Linked DNA regions of Homo sapiens. The protein of the gene in region 1 purifies or fractionates together with the protein of each later gene. This does not show direct contact. Each region holds a gene or a part of one and is shown on either strand. Other genes may lie near its edges.

Region 1 (3,823 bases):
ATTATAGAAACATGCCTGAGGGAAGAAGGGGCAGAGCTAAATGTTTTGGAGGATCTGACACTTTACAGTATCAGATATGGATTACCTATAATTCTCATGTTTGTTGTTTAAGTGTAGTGCTAAAGGCACTTGCCAATAGGTTGATAGTGATCTTTCACAAAATTAGTTTGCTCAACAAAATTCTATTTATCCTTCTAGAAATTGGTAAGATCTCATTTTATGGCCCATGCAGTCCAGAGATTTTTACATTTCCCTTTAAATTATCCATAGCAAAGTTTAGTGTAAACAAACCTTTTCCTTCTTTCATTTAAAGTACATTATTTTCCTGTCATGTGCAAGACACACTGCGAATGGAGAAGGATTGGGGCTATGCTCTTTGGGGATATACCAAATGACTATGACAAGTATTTGGGGGCTCAGAGGAGTTGATAGTCTTCAGTTGGAAAACAGATTACTTACTCAAATGTTACTAGGGAGAAGATTTATTCAGCTACTACTAGGGCAAACGTCTAGGGTGGGAGAGGAAGGGGAGGAGAGAGATGGCTTATTGCTGAACATGCATATGTATTTAAGGGACTATGTAAAGGACTGATTTTTGGCATTTGGTGGACATTCAGAATCCTTGAGTGTATGTTTTTGCAGTGTTTGAGAAAAAGAATTTAGAGATGAACTATGTATACTCCAGCTGTCACAAATTTTAATTCTATTATTAGGTCACAATTACCTTTCATTTTTCTAATAGATATCTCTACATCACACATTCCATTATCTTTTCCTGACCTCCCAAATCCAAATAAACATTAAGGAGCTAAGAGTAAGAATGGAATGAAATTGCCTAAAATCTTTATCAACTGTGGTCAGATTACACCTTTGGCCTTTCTAAATGCCCTTCTGTGTGGATTGTCTTAAGATTCTTCTTGTTCTGGAATACAGTGGAGGTCTTTAACCATCTTCTTTTCATCTGCAAACCCTCATGTTTGTTTTCTCTGCATGGGACCCAGGACTTCTTACCTGGGGTCACCACTATCTTCCTCATGATTAAAAATTAAAATTAGGACATGCTGGCACCACATTAGTGAAATCCCTACTCTGCTCCCATGAGAGGTGTCAGCAGGTGGAGTAGGAGGAGAGCGTGCTTTATAAATGGAAATGGAGCTTTTGTAGCATCTATTCAATCTGACATGTTTCCAGTTTACCATTAAGTCTCTTCTCAGCATACTTTCCTCCCCTGTCATTTATCATTTACACATACAAATGACAATTTTCTATTATACCAATAAGTGCTGAGAATTAACATTTTAGCCTCTTTTTCCAGTTTTAGAAAAGATCCCAGAACACTGGGACCTATGTTTGCATATGGTAAAGAATACCATCTGTTTTGTTTTTTAATTACACTTTAACTTTTTTTTTAACGTCTTAACTTTTATTTAAGAAAACAGGCTAGTTATTATTGCACCTAGAAAACCACGAGGGGCCTAATGAGTACACTGATGACATATCTGTTGATATGTCATCTTATCTAAAACATAAAATTTTAGATTAAGAATTCTAGCCGGAAGTGACTTTAAAATGTTCTAAAATGAAGTTTTGCATTTTATGTTTTAGTAAATGTAAAAATTTTGAGATATTCAGAATGACACTTAAAATGTTCTCAAATGACAAAAAATGACACCATGTATTTCATGTTGTAGAAGTGGTCAAGGCAATGAGATCAAACCCAGAGGTTTTTGATTTTTGTTTTTTTCCTGAAGCCACTAGTGTTTTGGTATTGACTATCTATGACAGCAGGATAAGTGTGATATTCGATAAATGAATCTGTTTTCCAGGCTGAGGAGAAATAACATGTAAATTCTTGAAAGTCAATAGAGTGTAATGAAAAGCAAAAGCAAAAAAAAAAATTGTTGGGAATCAGGAGGTAGAAAGGTTTATTCAAGATTTTCCACAGAGTTCAGCTTAATAATGAGTTTCTGTACCTTTTTGGTTTTATAGTATACCTTATTTGGTTATAGTCTGTTCATCTGTCATATCTAGGGTTTGTTACTTTTCTACCTAGTTCCTTTACTTTCTGATGAGTTACAGTACTTAAGTATCTAATATGTGCCTAGTACCATGTTGGCAGGGCTTGTACATGTCATCTCATTTAATCATCAGCCTAGTCATTCAGCACCCTTAGAACAGGGGCTGGAACTGTGGCTCCAGCTCATCGCACTGAAGCAATGGTTCCCAAGTGCCAGTGTGCAGGTTGTTGTCCCTCCGTCATTACTCTTTTCCCAGTCTATGGGAAGGAATAGTAAATGGGCCTGTTGTAAAATTTTCAGAAAGTTAAAGATGTTATATTCCATTATTGTTTTCTTCCTTTGAAAAAAAAAGTTAAATGCTATTTGGTTCATAAAACAATAGTGATAGCAGAAAGCTTTTTTATATGTCCCACCTTGTCAGAGTAAAACAATTGCATGTCTTTGTTGGTTCTCTCCTTCTCCCCTTTTGAAACCTGTTTATAGATCTAAGAGCTTTACAACAGCTGGCTTAAAAAATACTGTTTCACATGAAATTGTCATGTGTGCATGCCCATTTTAAGAGTAAAGTTTTTAAAATAGGAGGGGAAGGAAGAGGGTTTTTTTAGATATTTAATATATATTTAGCAGTTGTTTAGGGTATAAATTTGATCTATTGGTAATGCAATTTTAAATGCTGCAGCTTCATTCTGACTGAGTTTTATCTTCATTGTTTTTTTTTTCTAACTTTTTTTAAGAGATGGCATCTCACTATGTTGCCCAGTCAGGCCTTGAACCTCTAGGCTCAAGCTATCCTTCCACCTCAGCCTCCAGAATAGCTGGGCCTACAGGCATGCACCACAGTATCAGCTTGCCTTTCATTGGCTTTTAACCTGTAAATATTTAATATAGCTTTTGGCAAGAAATATTCTTTAAGAAATTGTTTTTATTCCCTGGAAAGTTTTTCTTTTCCACTTTTCACTAACTAAAGCCATTGTTTCAGAATCACCTTGATTCGTTTTTGTTGGTCCTCTTCAATGCTGTAATGCTTTGCTTTACTTTTTCCTTAGTGATACAAATGAAGTTGACATACCACCTAACACTCGAGTTGGCACCAAACGCTATATGCCTCCAGAAGTGTTGGACGAGAGCTTGAACAGAAATCACTTCCAGTCTTACATCATGGCTGACATGTATAGTTTTGGCCTCATCCTTTGGGAGGTTGCTAGGAGATGTGTATCAGGAGGTAAGAAACAGTGCTGTCTTTGAAAAGCTACTATTGGAGCTACTATAAATCCTTTCTTTCTGATCAGAAATCAAAGTTATCATACTGTCTATAAGATCTGGTTTTATTTTCCCCTTTATTTCTGTTGATGCAGTCATAGTGCTTCCAGGAAATTATATTCGACATCCTAGAATAATCTTTGACTGCTTCCTTCCTCCAGCTGCCACTAGACACACTGTCAGCCTACCCTGCTTTTTCAAGCATCACTGTTTTCTGCTCTGTGTATTGTCTTATTTCTGTCTTGGGTTCTTCCTCCAGCAGTTGCTCGATGAAATCAAACCCCCTTTTCTGTCCCTGCCAGTTTATTCTCACCTAGCTGCTGGGCCCCATCCCCAACTCCATTCCCTGGGATTTCCTCTGCAGAGATGACAGTAGGCCATAAATGTGGGGTCGGACACCCATTTCTTACCTGCTGTATTTTTTATAAAACTTCCCCATAAAGCAATTTGAAAACATCAGTTTTTTATCAAAAGGAAATTAAAGTATCAGAGTATTATTTTTTTATATTGTTTTTTCTACACATATGAGGATTCCCTAGTAAAAA
Region 2 (3,823 bases), on another chromosome or scaffold:
ATCAGAGGACTTGGTTTCCTATGGCATGGTGAAAAAGCTTTATCTCAGATGGAAAAGAGACCATCAGACTTTATTCTCCAATTCATTTGGACCCCTTGACAAAATATCTTGGGGTTCTTATACGATGCCCCACAGGAGCACACTCCTGTCCCCAAGGGAAGACAAAATGAGGGATCTGGGTCCGGGCTAATTTTAAGGGACATTGTGGGACATGTTATGGGAGGGAGAGGGTTGGACTGCTCATATCTTTTTGATCTTTGGGAATAACAGTGATGGACCCTCAACCAGAGTTGTGGATAGAGTCCAACTACCCCCAGGCCCCTTGGGAGAACATCACGCTTTGGTGCCGAAGCCCCTCTCGGATATCAAGCAAGTTCCTGCTGCTGAAGGATAAGACACAGATGACCTGGATCCGCCCTTCCCACAAGACCTTCCAAGTTTCATTCCTTATAGGTGCCCTTACTGAGTCCAATGCAGGTCTTTACCGGTGCTGCTACTGGAAGGAGACAGGCTGGTCAAAGCCCAGTAAAGTTCTAGAGTTGGAGGCACCAGGTAAGATGACAGTGATACTCAAGAATCAACTCCAGCTCCTGAGATTCAAACTTGCCTTCCAGGGGAGAGTTTGTTTCACAAATGCATGCAAGCATGCATCCCACAGTTAGTAAATAAGGGCCTACTTTGTATTGGGCAATGCAGAGGGGGGATGCAGACTCTGGAGCAGAGATAGGAGAAGGAGGGGTGGCAAACAAGGATCATACAGGGAAACCTCAATTAAAGTAGAGCTCTCCTCTGCTGCTCCCTAGACAGTACTATCCTTGCTTTACCTAATTCCAGTTCATTCTATCCTTCCAGGCCAACTGCCCAAGCCCATCTTCTGGATTCAGGCTGAGACCCCCGCTCTTCCTGGGTGTAATGTTAACATCCTCTGCCATGGCTGGCTGCAGGATTTGGTATTCATGCTGTTTAAAGAGGGATATGCAGAGCCTGTGGATTACCAAGTCCCAACTGGGACAATGGCCATATTCTCCATTGACAACCTGACACCTGAGGATGAAGGGGTTTACATCTGCCGCACTCATATCCAGATGCTCCCCACCCTGTGGTCAGAGCCCAGCAACCCCCTGAAGCTGGTTGTAGCAGGTGGGTGTGGCTATGGCTGCTGGCATCTGGCAATTGTTGTCCCAGGTATCATGGCTGGCTGAGCTAGGGTTTCTGATTTTACTTTCCTCAGCCAGTTTCTAGGCCCTGCAAGGCCCCATGAGCTACAGTCGTTTGAAGTTTTACTGAGATATAAATTAGAATGGCATGTGCTGCAAGGCAGATGTATGGGAGCCAATCATTTGGCTAGTAAAGGAGCCCAGCCAACTGGCCAGCAGCTTCAGCTCATCACAGCTTTGTTGTTCTCAACTTGTTGAATATCATGCATTCATTCATTAATTCAACCAGTATTTATTGAGCACCTAATATGTGCCAGGCACTGCCACTGCAATCTTATAAATGGAGTTTTAAATTTGCAAATGTATTTTATTTGTAATTGTTATTTTTATGTGTGGAAAACAGAATGGATTGCTAGTGTTGGTGAGTAAAAACAAAAAAAAACAAATGACAAAGAATGTGATAGCTCATATTTTAGAAATGGCTTTATAAATCACCTTGGTTCCCTATCAGTAGAGCTAGTAAGGCAGCACCAATCTCTAAATATAGAAGAAATTTCCCCAAAATGTAAAATGCCAGACATGTCCCAGCCCGAACTCCCCCACCCCATGGCCTGGAGGTTTCTAGATGGAATTGGCCACATTTGCTTTAGTCTCTCTATCCAGCTAAATAGGCTTGGGGAAAGCTGTGGTGCTACAGAAAGTACCCTAGACTTAGAAGCAGTAATACTGGTTTCTAGTTCTATTTCTGACACTGCCTCCCTGTGTGGTCTTGAGCAAGTCACTTCACTTTTCTGTGCTTTGGCTTCCTCTACTCTAAAAATGGGATAACAGTATCTATCTGATCTACTGTGTAATGCTTCTCTCTGTGCCTCAGCTTCCTGATCTGCAAAATTGGTTTAATAATAATGCCTACCTCACAGGGTTGTTGTGAGGATTTGCCTAAATATATATGTACAGTGCCTGGCATATAAGTTCTCAATAAATGGTAGATATTAATTTTGTTAGTATAGCTTTTTATTGAGGATCAAAGAACAAAAACTGCCTGTTTGAACTGAGTGTATGAATGTTTGTTGTACTCATGCCCTTTCAGCATAGATTCCACTAAAATACACTTCCGTAGTTACCTGTTCACCAATATCCCCCACCAACCAGTTCATGAGCTTTTTGCTAGCGGAGACTGTGTCTTCTTTACTCATACACACCTAGACCTACATGACGCTTGATGCATACTAAATGCTCAGTGAGCATATGACAGAGCTGATCCTTCCTTAATGAATAGATAAGTGTGCCTGGCATTGGGGTGGGGGTAGGAAGGAGTGGTAGGAGGTGAGGTTTGCCCTCACTTTCATGTAAAATCTCCTTGGAGAAACAATTCATGGAAAGGAATGTGTGGCCCCATAACAAAGATTTATTTGGGTCGCAGACTTACTGGCCAAACCCTCTTTATTGGCTTCTTTCAGTCTTGTTGTAGAAGTAGGGTCTTAAATGAGCTTAATGTATTCAAAAGCTCTCCTTAATATTTCAGTGGCATTCATGCTCTGCAAAGATGAAAACAATGTTATTTTCAGAGGTTTGGTTTTTCTGGTGGTTGAAAGAACTACATTTGGCATTTCAGGGGCCTAAAGATACAGGGAATTATAGATGTAGATCTTCCACTGAGATACACCCCTACACATGGTTAGAGCTCAGTGAAGCTGGCAGATTCTTGAGAGAGAACAGGGGCATAAGTGAATCTACCCTTGATTATGTTACAGAGGCAGAGATCCAAGGAAGGGATAGGGAAGAGAAGGTAAACTTCAGCTACCACTTCTTGTTCAAAGAAATTAAGAAAGAGAAAACAGAAGACAACAGGAAAGAATCATCTTGCCTCTAACTTTAGGGTCTCTTCCGTTTGTAGGACTCTACCCCAAACCAACTTTGACAGCCCATCCTGGGCCCATCATGGCACCTGGAGAAAGCCTGAATCTCAGGTGCCAAGGGCCAATCTATGGAATGACCTTTGCTCTAATGAGGGTTGAAGACTTGGAGAAGTCCTTTTACCACAAGAAGACAATAAAAAATGAGGCAAATTTCTTCTTCCAGTCTTTGAAGATCCAAGATACTGGACATTACCTCTGTTTTTACTATGACGCATCATATAGAGGTTCACTCCTTAGTGATGTCCTGAAAATCTGGGTGACTGGTAAGAGACGGGTATGCCATGAAACTTAGGTTAACGGCTAAGGATATAAATCTCCCTCTGTGCTCCCTGGAGAACCTAATCCTGTGGCCAGGGTTAACAGTAGAGAAGGGAGCAGAATTTGTAAAACTGGGTGTAGGCAGGTTTTTCCAAGGGTGGTTTGGAGGAAGAGAAGGAAAAGAATCTTAAGGAGTGGGAGCAGGAAGTGAAATCACTAGTGCTTTTTATTCTGGGTCTCATCCTAGACACTTTCCCCAAGACCTGGCTACTTGCTCGGCCCAGTGCTGTGGTCCAAATGGGTCAGAATGTGAGCCTACGGTGTCGAGGACCAGTGGATGGAGTGGGTCTTGCACTCTATAAGAAAGGAGAAGACAAACCACTTCAATTTTTGGATGCCACCAGCATCGATGACAACACATCATTCTTCCTCAACAATGTAACCTACAGTGATACTGGCATCTATAGCTGCCACTATCTTCTCACCTGG

Evidence for each region.
Region 2: the proteins of BMPR1B (region 1) and IGSF1 purify together in Homo sapiens (affinity purification with western blotting, with the first as the bait; one study listed by BioGRID). This does not show direct contact.

Annotation. Positions count from the first base shown.
Region 1 is NC_000004.12:95,145,684-95,149,506, forward strand, and holds part of BMPR1B (bone morphogenetic protein receptor type-1B isoform b precursor), read left to right. Parts: intron 1-3,064; coding exon 3,065-3,240; intron 3,241-3,823. UniProt on the Homo sapiens protein: On ligand binding, forms a receptor complex consisting of two type II and two type I transmembrane serine/threonine kinases.
Region 2 is NC_000023.11:131,282,496-131,286,318, reverse strand, and holds part of IGSF1 (immunoglobulin superfamily member 1 isoform 1 precursor), read left to right. Parts: intron 1-270; coding exon 271-552; intron 553-852; coding exon 853-1,140; coding exon of another isoform or gene 1,141-1,202; exon of another isoform or gene 1,203-2,153; intron 2,154-3,054; coding exon 3,055-3,339; intron 3,340-3,581; coding exon 3,582-3,823. UniProt on the Homo sapiens protein: Seems to be a coreceptor in inhibin signaling, but seems not to be a high-affinity inhibin receptor. Antagonizes activin A signaling in the presence or absence of inhibin B.